2 separate regions of the Homo sapiens genome follow, and region 2 is linked to region 1. The links come from fine-mapping of genetic effects on gene expression. A gene starts in region 1. The other region holds a variant in brackets. All regions are shown on one strand. Distances are from middle to middle. Region 1 holds the start of PDC-AS1 (PDC antisense RNA 1). Region 2 overlaps PLA2G4A (phospholipase A2 group IVA).

Region 1 (11,988 bases):
TTAACCCATAATTGCCAAAACAAAAGTAACTAGGTGGCACCTGTTTATAGAGTAAATGATGATAGCAACCATTCTCAAAGTAAGCACTCGATGACTAATGGATGCCAAGGTGAAGCTTTAATCACAACACTCATCAGGAAGAGTTGAACAAAAAGCAGGATTTGCCTAGAATATTTGAAGCCTGCTGCTGCAGAAATACTGGATTACAAACTGCCCTCGTGTAAACACTTAATCTGCAATTCTTTTGGCAGGAGGAGGAGGAGAAGAAGAGATCATTATTGTCTCAGCAAAAGGATGATGTTTTAAATGTAAAGGCTTAAAATGTCATAACATGTCTCATAACAAATCACCCAAATAATAACTGGAATGGACTTGAAGGAAAAGCCAAGAGTGTTAGCTGTAAACTAATAGGAAACTTTGGAGGAAATAGCAAAATTATCCTGTAAAGTCAGAAGCTCATTCATTTATTTGTTCACAACATACTTATTGATAAGATGCCATTTAACAGCCAGTGTCCTTGATCTCAGAGATCTTAAGGTAAAGAAAACAAACATCAAACAAGCAATCAAAGATAAACGCATCGGCATTTGTATCCATGTGTCTATACTGTAATGGTGGTTAGTATCTTGAACACCAGATCTCCTAAGTTTTAATTCATTCACTGATTTCATGACTTTGGGCAAATTAGTTAACCTCTCTACTGTTTCCTCATCTGTAAAATAAGAAAAATAATAGCACATGTTCATTGGGTTGTTGTGAGGGGAAAAATGAGTAAATTATGTAAACTAGAGCAGTACCTGACACTGACATTACTCAAATGTTAGTTTTCATTATTATTAATAGATATACATGAAGTAAAATGGTGCATACAGTACACAGATATACGATTTTAGGGATCTGCTTATGTAAATAAAAGTTAATTTATTAAGAAGTTGGGATTCAATTAATCTATGCTAAACACACCACTCACATTTCTCTGTATTAGAAACTTATTCAAACTTTCATGTATGTGAATTGAAAGAGAGAAGTCCCAAAAAACTGCCATTTCAGAATGACTGTAGATACCACAATAAGCAAATTAAATTAAGTCTGAAAACAAAATAAAGTTTAGCACATAAATAAGAAATTCATTTTGAAGTTTTATACTGAATGTATTATAGAATAAAATTTAATCGTATACTTATCTATTCAAATATATCTAATACATTATCTCATGATACAAATTTTATATATTTTTGTTCCCTTTCAAACATTCTACAAATGTCTGAGTGTCTAATACATACAAGGAATTATGTTAAATAATAGAAGAGATGATGAAAATGTATAATATAATCATTCTTTCTTTTCAACAGATTTACAGTCTAAGAGGGGAGCACACATTTCTTAAATTAAAAGATATAGTGACATTTTAATTTTACTTATTTATTAATGTTGAGATCTTATATTCTGGAACCCAGCTTATACTGGATTTCCGTGAAGAAACTGTCATCCACTCATGCCCCTCTGATTAACTAACATATTCTGGCATGCAGTTCTTCTTTTTACTTTTACTGCCAACTTCCCTTCAATTTCAATATACCATTCTCTGATGATAGTCATCTACCCTTCCAGTTCTCTCAATTCATTTTTTTCTTTTCTTTTTTCTTTTTTTTTTTGAGACGGAGTCTCACATTGTCATCTGGGCTGGAGTGCAATGATGGTATGATCTCAGCTCACTGCAACCTCCGCCTCCCAAGTTCAAGCGATTCTCCTGCCTCAGCCTCCCGAGTAGCTGGGGTACAGGCGCCTGCCACCAAGCCTGGCTAACTTTTTTAGTAGAGATGGAGTTTCACCATGTTGGCCAGGCTGGTCTCGAACTCCTGACCTCAAGTGATCCACCCGCCTCAGCCTCCCAAAGTGCTGAGATAACAAGCTTGAGCCACCGCACCCGGCCCTCTCAATTCTTTTCTACCAAACCACACGTTGTTTAAGACCTGCAATTTCTCAGCCTTGCCTGTTTGACACTGCCTTTCTCCACTTTCCCTGTTTCTATCCTTCCTGTGCAGCCTAAACACTTGACAGATGTCATCAATCACCTTCCTGCTGGCACTTCCCCCATTTTTATCCCTTTATTCTTCCAAAGCACTTATCGTTTAAATCCCCAAACTTCCAATCATTTCAACCATCTGATCTCTCTTTTCCTAACTACTAGCTGGTAAGTCCTACTCAACAAAATTGTATCTTCCTCAAAATTTCATACATATATCAACCAATCAGTGCTCTTCAACTGGGGTCCATAGCTTGTTCTGCAAACAGATCCCTCTTCCGTTTCCCACAGCAGCTATTCCAAACCTTCATTATTCTCCTCAGTCTCCCTCTCCTACATCCTTAAACGACCTTCTTTCAACATCCCAGTAGACACTGAGCCCACCAGGCATGAACTTCCCTAATTTCTTACCCCACATCTATTAACTCAGCTATTTTCCATTTTATTGTTCTCAAAGATGTGTTTCTATGTGAGACTAATATTGTCATCTGTGCTTTTAATTGGATTATAATACATTCAAATTTCTTTTTTATTCATATTACAGTTCTATCCCCTCCATGTTTTTTATTCACAACCTAAAAACAACTTTCTATCTCTTATTTAAAAACTTGTCTTGGTTCTTCCAAATTATTACTACCTATTGTCTCCAGTATTTTCCTTCTCTTCTTCATTCCCAAAACTCCTTGCAAAAACAAACAAACAAAAATTCAATTTTTCTTATTTAATCTTCTTCCTTTCTTTCCATTTATTTTTCCACCTATCTGCCTCAACTATTCCACTGAAAGTGGTTCTGATACAGATCAGCAATGACCTCTGTGTCAGGCACGTCCCTGGAAGGAAACAACACAAACAGAAAAGGTATGATTGAAGGGAGTTTAAAGAAGACTATTTGCACATGTATGTTTATTGCAGCACTATTCACAATAGCAAAGACTTGGAACCAACCCAAATGTCCAACAATGATAGACTGGATTAAGAAAATGTGGCACATATACACTATGGAATACTATGCAACCATAAAAAATGATGAGTTCATGTCCTTTGTAGGGACATGGATGAAGCTGGAAACCATCATTCTCAGGAAACTATCTCAAGGACAAAAAAACCAAACACCACATATTCTCACTCATAGGTGGGAATTGAACAATGAGAACACATGGACACAGTAATGGGAACATCACACACCAGGGCCTGTTGTGGGGTGGCGGGAGGGGGAAGGGATAGCATTAGGAGATATACCTAATGTTAAATGGCCAGTTAATGGGTGCAGCACACCAACATGGCACATGTATACATATGTGACTAACGTGCAGATTGTGCACATGTACCCTAAAACTTAAAGTATAATAAAAAAAAAAGACTGTTTACAAGGGTCTAGGCAGGAAACTAACAAAAGATAGTGAAGCACCACCTATTAACAGGTGAAAGTGACTCCTACCCACAGGCCTGGAGGGGGCAAGAAACCAGTGAGACCTGCAGCTATAGGAAAAAGCTGCCCAACAGGAGCTTTTGCTTTTGGAAGAGAAACACTGCCCCTGTCACTCTGTGGCCCAGGAGGGACAGAGCTTCAGGGAAAAACAACTTGCACTCTCTCCTCGTGCTCTTCTATCTCTTTTCAGAACCTTTCATTGTCAGAATCCAGCTGAAAGCCAGAGGACAAGAGAACCCTGTTGATGAAGTCTGTTAAGTCAACCTTCTCTAGGGATAAAACAGGATGGAGAAAGATAGAACGTGAATTTTAAGAAGCAAATGGAGAATATCCAATACACCACCTAACCACCAAGCCTGTTAGACTCAACAGTCCTCATCTTACTTAACTTTCGGCTACATTGAATGCTGATTACCAATCCCAAATTGAAATTCTTTCCTCACTTTGGTTTTCATAATACCACTCTACAGATTCTTCTCTGCTTCTGTGACCGGGGGCATGCATGCTCCTTGTCTATTGGTGTTTTTCTGGATTAGTCTCCTCCCTCACACTTCAGATGCTGTTATTCCCTCTGACGACTTCAGGTACCATCTACACCGAGGCTTCTGAAAATCACCACTGTTTACATTTTGGACCAGATAATTATTTGCTGTGGGGAGTTGTCTTGTGCATTATAGTATGTTTAGCAGCATTCCTGGCCTCTAACCAGTAGATACTATTAGCATCCCTCCCTCAGTTGCAACAACTAAAACTATCCTCAGACATTGCCGACTGTCCTCTGGAAGGTAAAAATCATCCCCAGGAAAGAACTGCTTACCTCTACATACAGAATATGTATCTTCTGTCCTGAGTTCCAGGCTGATGGAAACTTAATTACCATCATCTGTCTCCTGGACAATTGCAATCATTTCCTAAGTGGGCTCCACAACTCCCAGTTTTCATGCTCACATCAGACTGATCCAAAAAAGACTGTGAATGTGTGAGGGAATCCCAAGGCTGTCAAGCCATGCAGCTGAAAATATTCTTAAAACATCTACGAGACACATGAAAAGAAGTGGAATTGTAAGAGTTTTTGACTTACACTCTGAAACATTTGGGGATGTAGATGCTCTTCTTGATGACCTATGACTTGTGGGAGTGAAGTAGCTCTGTACAGAAATATTGTACCTCCCATTACAGGAAAAGATATTCTTTCAGAAGAAAGTAAACTCAACAGCAGCATTTCTCTAGTCAATTTTCAAAAGTTTGGTCTCTAACTGGAAGTTTAAAACGTGAAAAGAGTATAATGACTAAAATGGTACGAACATATATTTAGATAAAAATATGCAGGCTCTATGACAAAACAGTTATCTTTTACAACAATTGGATTTGAAAAAATTACACACACAATACACACACACACACACATATATTATATACACAAACAATAATCATTTTAACTTGACTTTTCAAGATAGGTGCTACTGCAGTAACTCCTGTGCTTTTAATAACAAAAATTTGAAAAATCATTTAAGAACAAATACATTTGTCATAGGTAGTTGTTTATATGCCTTGCTATGAAAATAAAGTACCTCATGAATAAGTTAGATATTGCATTCCTGAAACATATATAAAAGTCAAATACTATGTATGTTCATAATTACTAAAGAATTGATGTAAAGACAGTATAATCCATGCTGTGGAATAGCTTTGTTGCACCAAAGATAGCCAACATTTTTATGATGTGTTATGTTACATAATTATTTCACATACATTATCTCACTGGAAGAACTACGAGACACAATTGCTCTATGAGGTAGGTAGAACAATGTTTTCAATATGTCCTCCTCAAGGATGACAAAATTGAAGTGTTTGTGGTTAGCTGACTAGTCCAGGTTATGCAACCAGGAAGATATAGAGGTTGAATTTAACCTTGGGCCTCCCATCCCTGGTTCCTGTGCTTTTCATATCACAGCATACTTCATACTGGCAATCATCAATGCAAAGAATGCATTAACAAAAAAATTCAGGATTATCTAAGATTAGAAGATCTACCTTAATATATTTCAGGCCCATATATCGATTCTGCAGGAAAAAAACAAAAACAAAAGAACAAAGTTACCTGGAATCCAGAGAAAGCTTCGGTTAAGTTCCACAACTCTAACAACTAATACAGTGGGTAGGACTCTGGCAGAGAGAACAAAGCAAAGTATAAGGTAATCTCAGTTTTCAATTATGGATATTCATTATTTGGGCAATAGCATTTAAGGAAAACATTTAATTTTATCTTTACTTGAGGCTCTCACCTATAACAGCTGTCAAAGTCTGTTCATCTTTCAGGGATTTTTTTACATAGTATAAAAGAAAATGCTCCTAAAAATTAGTTTTTCATAAAATAAGGTGTTTCACCCTAGGTTATTTTATTTCTTAGAGCGTTCACTCCCTGCTTCCAATAATTGAACACAGACTAGCTTGAATTAAACATGCTATATCAAAAACATTAATTCATTTTTAAAGGTTTACATATATTCATTGCTAACAACATACAATTATTTCCCCTACAGGGTTCCTGTTATAACAAATCAGATGCACTTTCAATAGGCAATAATAATCACACATGAAATTGAACTTTCCGGGTAACTTGAATTACAGAGACTTACATAATAAACTGTGTAAGTCCCACAGAAGTTTAGAAGAATAAGGCCATGGCTCTACATTACATTTATCTTTTATTAAAAATAAATAAAGATGTCATTTTTGCCAATCATTGTATCTCCAATTTATTTTTTCCCTTCTTCAAGCATTTCCAGAGAATGAGGATTTTTAATTTTCTTTTTTGTTGCTTTTGTTTTGGTAGGGAAATGGAAAGGACTTTTAAACCTCCATTTGGCTTTCTCTGAAGGAGCAGCAAGGAGTTTCTATTTGAAACCAGAGTTATTTTACCATTCTTTCCAGTTCCAGAGTAAGAATTTAAAGAGGCAATCATTCCAAACATAATAATAGTAACAAAAACCATAAATGATTTCAATTTAACAGTTATGAGGTATATATTGTCTAATTAGACATTTTTTAAACCCAGGTATTGGCTATTCAAAAGAGATACATTCAAAACATAAGGATACAGAAAAGCAAGATGTAAAATGATGGAAAAACTATATCTAGCAAATACAATTCTTTAAGCAAGTATCAATTAATATCAGACAAATACATTTAAAGAGAAAAAGCATTATTAGATATAGAAATATATCTTATATACATAATATTACTTACATTATTACATAACTATAAAATGGTACAGTACCACTAGGATGATCTAAAAATTTTAAACATATATATGGCTAATAAAATGTCACAGAATATACATAGTAAAAACTGACAGACTACAGGAAAAAAGTGGCAATCCACCATCAGAAATTTCAGTGCAGTTCTTTGAACCTTTGCTAGATCGCGTAACAAAAAATTAGTATCTATGTAGATATTAACCACAGAATTAACAAGTTTGATCTAAAGGACATATTAAAAACACTGCAACTGGCCAGGCGCGGTGGCTCATGCCTATAATCCCAGCACTTTGGGAGGCCGAGGTGGGTGGATCACCTGAGGTCAGGAGTTCAAGACCAGCCTGGCAACATGGCGAAACCCGTCTCTACTGAAAATACAAAAATTAGCCAGGTGTGGTGGCAGGCACCTGTAATCCCAGCTACTTGGAAGGCTGAGGCAAGAGAATCGCTTGAACCCAAGTGGCAGAGGTTGCAGTGAGCTGAGATCACACCAGTGCACTCCAGTCTGCGCCACAGAGTGAGACTCTGTCTCAAAATAATAATAATAAAATAATAAAAATAAAGCATTGTAACTAATAATTAGTAAAGTAGCCACTTTTCCACCTCCAACACACAAGGAACATTTTCAAAAGTTAATAATGAACTAGTATACTGTAAGACAAATTACTCTTTAGGACCACAATGCAATTAAGTAGAAATTAATTACAAATATGTATTTGCTATTAATAATAAATACACATACATCTAAATAACTTCTGTGTTCAAGGAATAAATTATACTGGAAATCTGAAATTCTTAAAACTTAAAAAAAAATAAGAGTATTTTATATCAAAACTTTGGAACATCAAGAAAATATTACTATTAAAAACATAAATTACAAAAGAAGACTTAAAACAAATGGCCTGAGTTTCCAACTAAGTTAAGAAAATAAAGCAAACCCACAAAGTACAAACATAAGGAAATAAGTACATGCATAAATTAATATAAATTTTATAGATAGAATTCACATGCCAAAAATTGGTTCTCTAATAAGATTTTTAAATATCTGGCCGGGTGCGGTAGCTCACACCTGTAATCCCAGCACTTTGGGAGGCTGAGGCGGATGGATCTTGAGGTCAGGAGTTCGAGACCAGCCTGACCAACATGGTGAAACCCCATCTCTACTAAAAATACAAAAATTAGCCTGGTGTGTTGCCATGCGCCTGTAGTCCCAGCTACTCAGGAGGCTGAGGCAGGAGAATTGCTTGAACCCAGGAAGTGGAGGTTGCAGTGAGCCGAGACCACACCATTGCACTCTAGCCTGGGTGACAGAGTGAGACTCCGTCTCAAGAAAAAAAAAAAAAAATCTGCCAGATTCACTGCAGGGGGTGTGGTGGCTATGAGAAAAGCATAAATAAACAACATTAAAAAAATTTTTTAAAACACATGCTTAGATAGAGCTGAGATAAAAATGATATAAAATATTATGAGCAACTTAATGCCAACAAATTTGAAAACAAAAAAAATAGATTTCTAGAAAAATATAATTTACCAGAATTGATTTAAGACAAATAGAAAGTCTGAATAGCCCTGTAACCAGCAAAGAAACCAGAACAGTAGTTAACAAAATATTACCCCCCAAAAAAACACAGGGCCTAGATGTATTTATAAGTTAATTCTATCAATCTGAAAAGAAACATTATTTTACACAGGCTTTTTCAGAGAACAGAAAAGGAGAATAATTATCAACTCATTTTATTAAACTCATATAATCTTTGTACCAAAACTGGACAAGGGCAGTATGAGAAGGGAAAATTACAGGCTAATATTTCCACAAGTATGGAAACAAAAAATTTAAATAAAATATTAGCAAGTCAAATCCAACAGTGTATGTAAAAGATAAAACATGATCAAGTTGGATTTCTACCTGGAATATAAGGTTGGATATATAAAGCTCACAGTTTGTAGCTATAGGTTATGTTCCTACTGTAGCCTTAATGTCTTTAGTTGCTGGCATCAATACCTAGGTCCCCTCCCACCTCCAAGCCATATATGAGAAGCTACCAAAACTTGTTCCCACTGAGGTAATTACTCACTTAGGCTGAATGAGACAAATTCTTTATTAGAACCAGAATCTAACATCCTCAAAAACTATGAAACTGAACCCACCATGATTCTTAATCTTGCATTAATCACAATCAGTATCTAAAACATAAGCCCCCTACCAACTTTTCCCACTCCCTACTTCCTGCCCACTCCCAGCTTGCCCTTCGCCTTAATACTCTACTACACCATCCCCATGAAAGTCTGTACTTCCTTGCTCTCTAAAATCAGAATTTCCCTCTATTTTCAACCTTTTATCCAAGAATTCCTTCCACATCTTTGCCATTACTGAAATCTGCCTCTTCAAAGAGGGTACACTTTCTCTTTAAGCTTGCAAATGGTGATTTTGTATTATTTCAGAATTCAAATATCATTAGTGACACTATCCCTTACCCCAGATTATTCTTCTCATTGGCTTCCATAAAAATACTACATATCTTTTAGGGTCATGCTATTTGTATGTATCACTTTTTTTCCATCCTTGCAACTGACAAATATTGACCTTCTAATTACTCTACCTTTCTGCTTAAGTTTTGTGGCCATCATTAAACTAAATTTCTATGACCTTTTTTAATTTCAACTCATCTGTCTATTAGATAAGCCTCCCAAATATTGCTCTTCATTTTTTTCTATTCTTGAATCCGAGAAGACAAAGATTGCTGGGGGAAAAATACACAACTTAATCATGTGATTACTAACCTCAGAAGGATTTTTACCACTCTCTGGCAATTCCACGATTTTTCTTTGGCCACTTGATATTCCATTCTTTGCAATACTTCTTACAAATCTTTATTTTCATCATCCTTCACTCTTGGAAGATGACCTTGACAATTTTATAGAAATCTGAAGCATCAGATGAGATTATCTTCAACTTTTCACCAGCACACCTACAAGTCCGTATATATTTACACCTATTTTCTTCCCCCTCTGAGCTATTATGCTAGAAGAGGTGTTCCTTCTCTAAAGGCCAAGAGCCACCTGTGCTTTAAAGTGTATCCTCTCCAACATTCCAAAAATCTTATGTTTATGTTTTCTTAGTTGTGTACAGTCATCTATCTTGTTTCTACACGCTTAATTATTCCCTTTCATCAGTATGTTTCCCCTTAATCTGTATATGCACAGTAATATTTAGGCTTAGAAAATGACTTTCCTGAACCTGTTTCTGAATTATTAAAACAAAAAAAAAAAAAGGGAGGGAGGGTGACATAGAAATGAAAATACTTTGTAAACTGTAAAGCACTATTTATTGAGAGTTAGTGTAATGTTAGAATTTGTTCCCACTTAAAGATCAAAGGAATTAACTGACTTCACAAGGTTTTATTATTTTTCTTTTGGCAGATCTAGGAATATAACTCAATTCTCCATAATTATTAACTACTTATAATTAAAAACTAGAAAATATTTTAATAGTGCTAACTTGAAAGCACAGAAAAAAATATTAAAATTATGTTGGTTATTTTTGTTAAACACAGAAATTGCAGTCTAACATCTTAGCTTATTGACATTCAGAATTTTAATCATGGGGGTAGGCATCTGGTGTTTCTACAACTAAATTGGATTTGCCTAAAATAGAATCTAAGACCTGATTAAACTACCTTCATCTCTATCATTAAGTTCCTCTTCACCATTCTGTAAACAAAAAATCTCCTCAACAAATTGAGCAAGTTGAATAAAGGATAGTTTTCTAAAATACCAAGCCTTTTTAATTAAGGATTTTTGTACAGTGCTCTTCTGGGATCAGAAGTTCCATAGTACAGTACAAAATCTAGCTTCATTTAATGGTGTTAAGTAAATAAAATACCTATATTTTTACAAAGATGAAAAAAGAAGAAATAATCTACTTCTGATTATTAAGACAAAGATAATAGTTATTTACCCAAATATCTACTCTATGTGTCCTTATGAATAATAATCAAAGTCTATTTCTATTATATTAATACAATTTGAATCTAACAAATCTTTTCCCTACATACAATACAAAACTGTTATAAAAATCCAATGAAATAATGAAACTGAAACACTTTCAAAATGGCAAAAACAAACAACTGTAACTTCTAACTCTACTTTCATCCTTTGTTCTTAACAACTAACAAATCAATACCTATTAACATATTAATTTACCTTTTAATAAAATGTTATAAATTTTATGAGACCTCATTGACCACCTTTGATTAATATTCATTAACAGACTTGATATTTCCAACATAATTATTTATTAGGTTAAAATCAGAAATCAAGAACAACTTACCAGGTATTTATTATGCATTGGTTAATTTATATTTAGACAAATCTTTTAGGTAAGAGTCAGCAAACATAATGACATTATATTATAATAGGGCTTGATTATTCCTAGCTATGTTGGTGATATAGTCATGAACCTATTGACTATTGAGGATTGTAGGGGTAGGTAAAAGAAAAGACATTTTATTTGTCCCCAGAATTGTCACAGTGAAAAAGAGGAAGACAGAGGCACTGTAGTAAAAGACAGACTGCGATTAAGGGTCATATGTGGATTTTTTTTTGTAGTAACTATTTCTTTAGGGAACTCTTTTGTCTGTTCTTTCTCCTAAACATGCATATCTTATTTTATTGTAGTTGGCTTTATTGCATTTCACATATACCTCATTTTTTACAAGTAGAAAGTTTTTACAACCCTGCATCAAGCAAGTCTATCGTAATTTTTCCAACAGTATATGCTCATTTTCTGTCTATGTATCACATATTGGTAACTCTTGTAATATTTCAAACTTCTTCATTTTCATTGTCTTTTTTTTTTCTTGAGACAGAGTCTCAGTGTGTCACCCAGGCTCAGTGTGTGCACTCAGGCTGGAATGCAGTTGCACAATCATGGCTCACTGCAGCCTCGGCCTCCCAGGCTTAGGTGGTCTTCCCACCTCAGTCTCCCAAGTAGCTGGGACTACAGGCATGTGCCAACCACAACCAGTTAATTTTTGTTTGGTGTTGTTGTTTTTCTTTTTGTAGAGACAAGATTTCATCACGTTGCCTAGAGTGGTCTTGAACTCCCAGGCTCAAGTGATTTACTCGCCAAAGTGCTCGGATTATAGGAATGAGCCACCATGCCCAGCCTTATTATATCTGTTACAGTGATCTGTAATCAGTGACTTTGATGTCACTATTATAATTGTTTTGGGGTTCCATGAACCATGCCCATATAAGATGGCAAACTTAAT
Region 2 (11,988 bases), 460 kb before region 1:
GGATCTGCCAAGCCCTTTATCTTGCTATGCCCCAGCTTGCTTTCTTCTTTCAAGACTCTGGCCTTCAGCAATCTGTTCTGCCCAGAATGCTCATAACTACTTTACTGATGAAATCCTGCTCTTTTCTTAAGGTGTAATAACAGCAACAATGACAAGTAACATTTATATAGTGCCTAATACGTACCAGAAACTGTTCTAAGCCCTGTATGTATACATGTGCACATCTATATGTGTATAGTATCGATATATTTAATCACTTATTTTAATTACTTTATAGTATTAACATACTTTTAATCACTTTCAATCACTTATTGAATTATATGCTTAATATATAAACTAAATAATATGTCAGTATATACTGAACCATAAAATATATCAAATTATAATTAAATGTATTCATATGTAATATACATTATATTATATATTATCATATGCATGTATTATATATACATAAATAAAATTAACTTGCTTAATCATAATGATTCCCTTAGAAAATATTATTTCCATTTTACAGATGATTAAACTGAGGAACGGAAGAGTTAAGTGTTATTTTCCCAGAATAAAACAGATGGCAAGGAACAGAACTGGAATTTAAACACCAAACAGCCTGTCTTTCAATGCCAAAGTGTTAACCACAGTTCACTGTTCAACTTGTTCAAAATCAGCTACTGCTATGGAGGCATCCCTAGCCTCCTCTCACAACACAATCGTTCTTTATTCTGCCTTCCCATAGCACTCTATACATGTCTCATTGGTACTTATCTCACTGTCTGGGGATTTCTTTTTATCACACGTATGTATCTCCCTACTTCCACTTCTCATTTCAACCTTTACTCACCTCCTTCCCAGAGGGAGATAATTGAGGGAAGAACTTCCTGTACCTTATTCTCTATATTCCTTGAACAAAACACAATGGCTGGCACACAGCAGATCTTCAATAAATGTTTGTAAAAGGAATGAATGAAATAGCTTTAAAAGGGGTCGACAGAATTGTGGTGAGTGCATCTCTTGGCATGAGACAGAAGAAATGCTTTCTGCAGCAGGTGGAAGCACCAAGGAGTGCATGGACCAGAGCATCCTCAAGGTACCTGGGCCATTCTGATTGCATGGACTAGTCAAGAAGCTCATTTGGGCTAAGTTGGTTTCTAAATAGGTACACATTCATTCCATAAATGTCATCTATGTAATTAATTCTGTAGGCACATTTAATCAGTATTTCAAGTTTCCTGACTTAGAGGATTTTAGTTTACAAGAGGAAAATGAAACATTGAACAGTATAAATAATGTAGTCCCAATGAATACCATAGATAATTATCATGGAGACTCAAAGGAGGAAGACTCATTTGGGACAGTAACAGGAAAGGCAACATGGAGAAGCTGAGAGTTAAGGGAGAGGTAGGTTGAGGTGAATGTAGGGACTTGGAAAGTCATTCTAAAGATGCGCAGAGACACATTGTCTCTCCCAACAACAAGAAATTAGTATGGTAACCAGCCTTACACATACAGGCCCACCAGTTGTTTACATTTCTTACTACAAACTACTAAATTAGTTTCTTACAGAATTCAAAATCCAATGAGTTTATTCTGTACAAAATTATTTACCTAAGGTTTCATTATTCCAAAATAAACTATCAAAATTTCAGAAATGTAGCAAACCTAGAAAGTCAAAGATAACAATAACCTCCCATCAATCCTTTTGGCCTTTCACTGCTTTGTCCCTATTTACTTGAGGATTCTCTGAGACAGAAATATTCCCCCAGAGAGATTTATTACTAAACATGTGGTTTTGGAATAGTCTGAATTTCCTAACATTTTCCACTGAGTTTGTTTACTTGTTCTCTCTCTCTCTCTCTCTGCCCCCAGCTCTCAGATTTTGCATGTCTTTTTATCCTCCCCAATTTTTTGTATTAAATTTTGCCATTAGAGTCCAAAGGCATTGCTGAATCCCAATGTCATCATTTGGAGCAACAAAGGAGATTAAAGCCTTAGTAGTGTTTGGTATAATACCTCAACCAAAGTTTATAGATGTCAGAATAATTTTTAAAATTAGGACAAAAAGTAAAAAGAAAAACAAAATTTTCTCTTTAAAAAGCAAACATTCTATGAACAAATAAATACAATTTTCCAAGTGTTAAACCCAACTTCCCAGAATCAATAGACTTTATCTAACATAAGGTTGGAATATAATTCTGCAGTGTTACTTACTTGGTTGAAAATAAAAGGAACTTCTTTCTTTTCTCCCACCTTCATAGAAGATACAGTAAATGTTGCTGTCCCTAGAGTTTCATCCATGACATAATTGGCATCCATTAACGTAATCTACAGAGTAAAATGTAAAGCACAAAAATAAAATTTCCCATGGATCTTTGGAAATGACATCTATAATTTCCACCACATTTAAAAAAATGAAGCTCTCAAATGATATTTAAGAGTCCTTGAAGATCTCAATATTTAATTAGTAACAATACTTTTATCTTTTCCTTTTTTTTTTTTTTTTTGAGACAGGGTCTCACTCACCAGGCTGGAGTGCAGTGGCGGGATCTCGGCTCACTGCAACCTCCACCTCCCAGATTCAAGCGAATCTCCTGCCTCAGCCTCCTGAGTAGCTGGGATTACAAGCAAGCGCCACCACATCCAGCAAATTTTTGTATTTTTAATAGAGACAGGGTCTCACCGTGTTGGCCAGGCTGGTCTCGAGCTCCTGACCTCAAGTGATCTGCCTGCCTTGGTGCTCTGAAAATGCTGTGGGGTGAGCCACAGTGCCCGGCCAATCTTTTCCTTCTGAGTACTGTGTTTGCTATAAGATAATAATTTTTCACATTTTCCTGATTGATTTATTCAATTATCATGTTTTCAAAAACGAAACTTTATCTCCTCTCTACTTTGGAATATGAGAAAGATATTAATGCAGAAAATCGATACAAATATTTTGGGAAAAATTAATTTTCACTTTTTAAAAAGGCAATTTAAAATATTTTTATTCTGTTATACTGGGATTCTCTCCTTGATAGCAGAAAATATGTTTTCTCCAAAGCACGTGGGGAGGACAGCAGTTTTCCCAACCCTACCTAACTCCTGTATGTCCTGATAGACACTCATATTACTTGACAGACACCATTTAGATTCTAGTCTACCAAGCTGCCCAGTCTAACTCCAACTATAGCTAACAGGAACAAAAAGGCAGTAAAAGGACAAACTCAAGCATGTCTCTCAACATGAATCACAACCATCTAACAGCATCCAAATGGTTCACTTACCTCCAAAACATTTTCCTGATTAGGATCCAAAATAAATTCAAAGGTCTCATTCCACACAGGGTTTATGTCATTATTGAAATGTCTTGTTCTCTTCCTGCTGTCAGGGGTTGTAGAGATAAAAAGTTCCACATAGGGATCTGGAGTATCAACTACAGATAGTAAACACAAACAAGAAGGAGGTAGAAATGTGATTCATAGTTCCTAATTTTTTTATTAATATATGTTGTCAGTTTATTCTCAATGAATCTGTAGTGATGTATTTAAATGTCTGAGACAAGATAATATACACATAATAGAAAAACATCATAGGGTAGATACTTTTTACATATGTCGCTGTCCTTCATAATAGTCCTGTGAGAGGGAATTGTTTATTAAGTGATTTATTCAGAATTCCTCCATCTATCTAGAGAGGACAGGTTCAAAGCAGTCAACATCTCAGTCAAGCTACTACAGGATGATAACAATGTCACCCAGCTAACGCCAACATGACCTTCACCCAGGACTGTGATAGTGACAAGATCATGGGCTTAAAGCTAGAGACAAATGCACAGACCTACTGTGAACTCATTTTTGACAAAGGTGCCAAGAACATACACTGGGGAAAAAACAGTCTCTTCAATAAATGGTGCTGGGAAAACTGGATCTCCATATGCAGAAGAATGAAGCTAGACTCCTATCTCTTGCCATATACAATAATCAATAAAAATGGATTAAAAATTTAAATGTTAAGATCTCAAAATATAAAACTACAACAAGAAAACATTGGGGAAAATCTCCAGGAGAACAGTCTGGGCAAAAATTTCTTGAGCAATACCACACAGGCACAGACAACCAAAGCAAAAATGGGCAAATGGGATCACATCAAATTAAAAAGCTTTTTTGCACACCAAAGGAAAAAAAATCAACAAAATGAAGAGACAACCCACAGAATGGGAGAAAATATTTGCAAACTACCCATCTGACAAGAAATTAATCACCAGAATATATAAGGAGCTCAAAAAACTGTAGAAAAACATCTAATAATGTAACCAACAAAATGAGCAAATGATTTGAATAGACATTTCTCAAAAGAAGACATACAAATGGGAAACAAGCATATGAAAAGTGCTGAACATCATTAATCATAAGAGAAACGCAAATCAAAATTACAATGAGATCTCATCTCACCTGGATAAAATGGCTTATATCCAGGCAATAACAAATGCTGGCAAGGATGTGGAGAAAAGGGATCTCTTGTATAATGTTGGTGGGAAAGTAAATTAGCACAACCACTATGGAGAATAATTTGGAGGTTCCTCAAAAACCTAAAAATAGAGCTACCATATGACCAAGCAATCCCACTGCTGAGTATATACTCAAAAAAAAGGAATCAGTATACTGAAGAGATATCTGTACTCCTGTGTTTATTGCAGCACTATTTACAATAGCTAAGATTTAGAAGCAACCTAAGTGTCCATCAACAGATGAATGGGTAAATAAAATGTGTTACATATACACAATGGAGTGTTACTCAGCCATAAAGAAGAATGAGATCTCGCCATTTGCATGGATGGAACTGGAAGTCATTATCTTAAGTGAAATAAGCCAGGCACAGAAAGACAAACAGCACATATTCTCACTTATTTGTGGGATCTAAGAATCAAAACAGTTGAACCCATGGAGGGGGCAGAAGGATGATTACCAGAGGCTGGGAAGGGTAGTAGGGGGCTGGAGGGGAGGTGGGGATGGTTAATGGATACAAAAAAAACACAACAGAAAAATGAATAAGACTTGCTATTTGATAACACAACAGGGTGACGATAGTCAATAATAACCTAATTGTTCACTTAAAAGTAACTAAAAGAGTGTAATTGGATTATTTGCAACAAATCATAAATGCTTCAGAGGATGGATACCCTATTCTCCATGATGTGATTACTTTACACTGCATACCTATATCAAAACACTTCACTTACCCCATAAATATATACACCTACTATGTACCCATAAAAATTAAAAAGTAAAAGTAAAAAGTAAAAAAGAAAAAAAATTGAAAAATACTTTTTTTTAAAAAAAAGATTATATTTGTCAATGTTAGAAAAATCATCCTGCTTACTTTATCAGATAAAATAATGGAAGTCATTGTGAGAAGAATATTGTTTATTGTTATAGAGTTGCCTTGTATGGTTGTACAGGTTGTACACTGAACAACTTTAAGGGGTGGCACTCATATTAAAAATCAACATGTATTTATTATGGCAATATTCAGATGGAAATGAGGTGTCTCTATGAAGCAACAATTTTTTTCTTTTCCTTTTTTTTTTTTTTTGAGACAGAGTCTTGCTCTGTTGCCAGGCTGGAGTGCAGTGGCACAATCTCAGCTCACTGCAACCTCGGCCTCCTGGTTCAAGCAATTTTCGTGCCTCAGCCTCCAGAGTAGCTGGGATTACAGGCACATGCCACTATGCCCGGCTAATTTTTGTATATTCAGTAGAGACAGGGTTACACCATGTTGGCCAGGATGGTCTCGATCTCCTGACCTCCTGATCTGCCCGCCTCAGA[C/T]TCCCGAAGTGCTGGGATTACAGGCATGAGCCACCATGCCCGGCCAGTAACGGTTTTTTCTATTTCACATAAATACCCACTTGAATCAGGGTATGATATGTGTGCCCACTGAAATAGAACAAAACAATTGCAAATAAAGAAATTATTTTAATTTCCTCCCATTACATATACACTTAGCAACAAAGCGAGTGACCCAAACTGTGCAAGTATTGATCACTCCTTTTTTAGGATTCCACCGAATCCTTTAATGTCTTACAGCACTGGACACACTATACTTTATGGATGAAATTATACATCTATCTGTCTTTTCCTACAAGACTATAAACAACTTGAGGGCAAAGATCTTGTCTTCCTCAGCTGTACATCTTCAGAAGCTAACAACAGAAAGCGACAATTACAATATTTAAGGTTTCCTAACCTATCGACTTGACTTTCCCGTTTAACAGGTGCTTTTCCATGCGGCCATTATAATTAATAACAAAAACAACAAATAACTAAGTAATGACTACAGGGATCTGTGTTAAGTACTTTACACACATTAGTCTCATTTAAATCTCACAATCGCGCTATAATGTAAGTACTTTATTTTAGTGTTAAAGTAACAGGAACTGAGAAATATTAAGCATTCTGTCCAATATCACATAGCTAATAAGTATCAGGTCAAGTTCTTGAACCTGGGTCATTTGACTACAACAATCATTCTCTTATTACATCATGTTCCTCAGTAACAAAAATTAGATTACAGGGTATGGATTCTATGGAAAGAGGAGCTGGAATTAGAGGAAGAGAAAGAGAGGGTGAGTGCAAGAGTGAGGGAGGGAGGGGGGAGAGAAGAAGTACAGAGGTCTAAACAAAAAGATCCAACAGTTGAAAATAAAGGAAAAGCAAAAATAATAGTTTCTGACCTATTGATTGGGTTTCCCCCCCAAAAAAATTTAAATAGATGTTGTCTGTCAACAACAGCTATGGTCATCAAAAAACGTAATCAATGTCTTTCACTTAATTGTTCAGTATTGCTCCTAGTTCTTTATGTAGTCATCAGCTTCTTTAGATGCATGTGTATGTTTAGTGGTTGTTATTATAAAACGGGAGGATCTACAAACAAGGTATCAGCCTTTGAGGCTGCCTTTAATTTTCCGGCTTGGACCTTATACATCATTGGTAAAGAGCAGTGGGGCAAAAGTGAGAGTGCAACACAAATGCCCAGGGTTATTGTAAAAACATAGACCCCGACCTTCATCCCCGAAGACCCATTGTCTGCATATCTGTAGTGGAATTAAGGGCTTGCAATTTTTAACAAATAGTCTAGCTGACACTGATGTGGATCATCTTCTGGTCACACTTTTGATATCCTATTTTAGACAAAAGGGGAAAGCCAGTCATTCTCATTTCTAACTCAGTGCTTATAACTCTCAACAGGACCATGGAATACAAATTAGAGAACAAAAAGATTGAGTGGGAAGGATGATAAGGTGAAATGGGCCAAAGAAGAAGAGAACATGTCATAGGGTAACATTATCACATTTTCAACCAGGAGGTGACTGCTTCTTTTCCTTAACCATGTTTCTACCATATCACCAGTGCTCAGGATTGCAAATCAGAAGTAAAACTCCATATTTAGAATAGCAGTTGGTAGAAAATTATCAAGAAAAATATGTAATTTTAAGGAAAGTATTCAATTAATGCTTCAAATTATGTGTTACAAAACATAGCCCTACATCATCTCATAGGGCCAGATTTTTCTCATAAGGCCAATGCTCTTTTTTTTAACCATTTTCCAAGAAGTAATAGAAAAAAAACAAAGCCAAGCAAAAACCAACGTGGAATACAAGAGTGTGTGGGAAGGGGAGGCATGCAAATGGCAAACATCATTCATTCATTCAACAAATACATGAGTGCCTACTATATGCCAGGCATTGCTCATTCACAAGCAGTTCAGCCTTGATAGGGAGCCAAACACTAAACTGAAAATTCGGATTATGGAAGTGAGTCAAATGTTAATAGCCTAATTTTAGAGGCAAGGTAAATTGAAGATAAGCAGTTACACTACCCCAGTGACTAGTAACTCAGTCACCCAGATTATTACACACAAATAAGGTCAAATCGTAGGTGGGGAAATTGCCTTTTCAGACTTAATCTTTACTTGAATCTTTGGGAAAGAGGAGGGTGAGGTCTACTTGGCCCAAACAAGAAGGAGCAAGCTGCAAGTGAAGTTCCTTGGAAGGCACCAGATGGGAAAAGGAAAGGACAAATTGAGAAGCACCATGAGTCAAACCATTATCTACCCATCTTCTCAGCCATTTTAGATTCTCAATGGGTCATATTTTTAACAAATTCTAATTCTGACAAAATGATAAAGAAAATACCATAAAAACAATACCCACACCATGTTTATATATTAAAACATCCACAGACTTTGTTTAAAAAATCAGAATCCAGTTTAATAGCTGTCATGTTGGATTTGCATTATTTAATTTTACTTTGAAAGTAAGTCAGCTTTCTAAAATGTATGTCCAGAGTGGCAGCGTTTCTAATTTCTCCTCTTGATTCTTTAGCCAGAGACTTCAGAGTTAAGATGTCAAAGGATGCTGGACAGTGGAAAACTACCAAAACTGCACACTTTGATTTTGCAATCTGCATCAGCTCTAATCATTGTAAGCTAAGAAATATCTATAACAGTGGTAGATAGGATAAAAATAAGTTTTAAGAGGCTAGTTTAAAGTTGGATTACAATAATCACATAGCTCAGTTTCTTTGCATAATCTATAACCATCACTGGCATGGTAGCAAACAGAATTAGAAGATTTGAAAAGGAAGGCAGCCCACTTTGACAGTAAACACAGCCCAATACTTTAGAGAAGTTTCAAGGAATGAATTAAAGAAAAAGTTAAATGTAGAATTTGTTTTTTCCTGTACATTATACTTATTTCATGGCTTTGTCAATTAACACCTATAGGGCAATTGCGTGTTGAGTCACTAACTCAGCCTCATCTTCATTATTTTCAGCCAAACATGTGGTGAAGCAAAGATGTAATATGTGGGCAAAAACCCCTTTTACATCTCATCCTTTTATCTAAATCTTGACAAACAAAAAATGTCGGGGGTGTGGAATACAGATCTTTTTTCTTCCCATAAAGTTGACATGAAACTACATGCACCAGAAATAGCTTCAGGGTGGTAAAACTTACTACTAAACTTCAGGAGTTTAAGGAGCGCCTGCCTGAAGTCATAACAGACCCATTTGTCATTTCAGCTTTGTCCAAGTAATATATCATGTGATTCATGAACTCATGGCAGCTTCTAAACTCCTAGCTCTATTTTAAATATTCTCTATTTGCCTATTTCCCCTTCATCAGTAGCAACTTAAACCTCTTGTTTGAAAAACAGATTACAAGTAATTTGTTACAATTCTTGTGATAAATAGGAAAAAAAAAATCCCAAAGGGGAAAGTCCTCCCAAATGTGTAGTCAAAATATGGCCCATTCTGAATACCTATGGTTCAATGACAGTGAGCTTAAAACAGTGTTTCCCCAAATGTAGTCCATTGAAATACCATGACCTTCACGGATTCATCTGCAGTGCCGTTAAAAATGCAGAACCTTAGCACCTTCAATCATATTCTCCAGCATGGGCCTGGAAATCTGCATTTTGACAATTGACCAGGTGATTATTATTCAGACATTTGAAGAACAGGGGCTTAAGGTATAATATTACGAGGAACTAAAGAACAGGAGTATAATAACACCCACAGAAAAATTACAAACATTTTGACATTGAGAAGGCAACAAAGTTACTGTTCTTCTGTCAAGGAGTTATTCTGCCCATAGACTAGATTAAGCCCAGTCCAGTCATTTACTTCTATTTCTCTCCAGACATAAAATACATTTTCAAATGGCCACGAGAAAATAAATGCAAGAATAAATTAAGTGTGGGTGTGTTAGTTGGCAATCTGTTTAAGGTGATGGACTGCTCTTCAAATGTTATGCTTCAATTATCAACAAAGTAGAAATGACTAAACGAGAAGAAGTAAGACCAAAACTTAAATGAAAATTTGTTGAACGAAATGCCTCTGAATACTATTCTCAGATGTGGTCATTCCTTTGATATATTTATGATGTAATAACATTGCTAATTACACACAGAGATCTTAGAGCAGCTTTTACGATTGTCAACCTTTTCGCTACCCATGTACTAAGCTGGTTGAGGTATGAGGTAGGAGTTAGGATTCAGTCTTTTTCCCTGTGTAACCAATAGACCCAGCATTATTTATTGGGAATACTGCCTTTAGCCCTTGCATTGCAGTATAAACTTTGCATTAATCAAGTGGTCACATAAAAGTGTAAGTCTGTTTCTGGACTTCGTTTGTCTATTAGTCCATTAATCTATCATTTAAGCTTGCATCTATACCACGCCTATACCAAACTGTCTTAATTATAATATTTTTATATTAATTGTAATATCAGGTAGTCTAAGTCCTGGAACTTTGTTCAATATCTTCAGGATTATACTGGCAGTTGCTTTATTTCCACACCTCAAAGATGTCAACTAATATCTTATGGTTCCTCTCTGTTTTGTTGAGAAATCCACTCTTGGTCATTTGCTTTTCAATATATTTTATTGGCTACAGAAAATACCCAGCCATTATATTTTCAAATATTACTTTTGCCCTATTCCCTCTCTCTTCCCAATGCTTTTTGTCATACCCCAGATATTCCTTAGCTTTTTATTCTATATTTTATTTCCTTATTTGTCTTTTGTGTTTCAGTCTGGATATTTTCTATAGACTTATTTTTCAGTTCAGTAATTCTCTCTTTAACTGTTTTCAAACTACAGTAAAACCATCTACTGAGTTCTTAATTTCTTGTGTTTTTCAGTTTAAAATTTTCCATTTGATTATTTTGTATATATCTGGTTTCCTGGTAAAATCCTCCATCTTAGCATCTATTTTCTTGAACATATTACTCTTAGTTATTTTAAGATCCATATCCAATACTTGTGGATCTGTTTGTTTCTTGATCTTATTTTTGTTACACTCATATTCTATAAGCCGCTGAATATTTATAATTCAGTCAACCTTTGACTGAATGCCAGACTTTTTTATGACAAATTATGGAAGAGCTAGATCTACCTCCACAGATGACCCACTTTATTCTCTGGCAGGCAGAGAAAGTAGGACTGATAGCCTCTATTGCATTTTAACAAATGAATTGATTTCATTCTTTGTAAGGTTAGTCTACCTCTTGTTCACTCCCACTCTAAGGCTCCCAACTTAAAGTCAAGGGTATTTATTAGGCCCCTTTTAATTTGGTCTCTCTGATCTCCTTGTTTGTTTGTTTGTTTGTTTCCTCTTATGAGACTGCCAATATCTTTGTCCTGTTTTTCAGGTTTTTATTTTTGCTTCTCAGACTGTTGCCCTGCATGAATCAAGAATTTGGCTAGTGCCTCGTGATGAAGGTGCTGGCTGTCAGGCATACTTCTTCTCTAGGCTTTCTCTCAAGGAACTTGGCTTCTCAAAATCAACTTATTTTGTCCTAAAATCCAGTCTTTATACCCCAAGTCCTTTGAGGTTGACAAAGCTCTGCTGGATTATTGGCCTCTTCACTGCTTGGCTACTTCCCATATCCCTATCACTCCCCTCCAACCTACCTAGATGCAGCTAACTAATAGACTGAGGGAAAACGTGGCTTGCAGAATATGAGCTTATTCCTTCTTTTTTTTTTTTTTTTGAAGACAGGATCTTACTCTGTCAACCAGCCTGGAGTGCAGTGGCACCATGGTGCCATCTCAGCTCACTGTAGCCTCAACCTCCTGGTTTCAGGTGATCCTCACACTTTAGCCCCCTTCCCCAAGTAGCTGGGACTACAAGCTCACACCATCATGCTCAGCTAATTTTTTGTGTTTTTAGTAGAGATGGGGTTTTACCATGTTGTCCAGGCCTGGTCTCGAACTCCTGGGCTCAAACAATTCATCTGCCTTGGCTCCCCAAAATGCTGGGATTATAGGCATGAGCCACCACGCCAAGCCTGGCTTATTTCTCTTCTGAGATCTTAGTCCCTCAAGTCCCAGTTTACTCATCAGCTTTTCATTCCTCTAGACATTTAAAAAAATTAATTTAATATGTGTTTCCTAAGTTGTTCTTAGGAAAAGTAAATACACTGCTATTAGTCACTTTAGCATACTTCAGTGACCA

Evidence for each region. PIP is the estimated chance that this variant, and not a neighbour inherited with it, causes the effect.
Region 2: its variant is fine-mapped to the expression of PDC-AS1 in lung (GTEx, PIP above 0.99).

The regions. Positions count from the first base shown.
Region 1 is chr1:186,428,858-186,440,845 of GRCh38, reverse strand. It overlaps PDC-AS1 (PDC antisense RNA 1), which reads right to left and starts at 5,685. Exons shown (of 5, transcript NR_126002.1): 1 at 5,557-5,685; 2 at 4,273-4,488. It also overlaps a transcript of ODR4 not described here.
Region 2 is chr1:186,884,429-186,896,416 of GRCh38, reverse strand. PLA2G4A (phospholipase A2 group IVA) reads right to left here. Exons shown (of 18, transcript NM_024420.3): 4 at 3,258-3,406; 5 at 2,206-2,319. Among named protein-coding and RNA genes, the nearest start is that of PLA2G4A, 61 kb to the right of the region's middle. The variant C/T (reference allele first, on the strand shown) is at 5,799.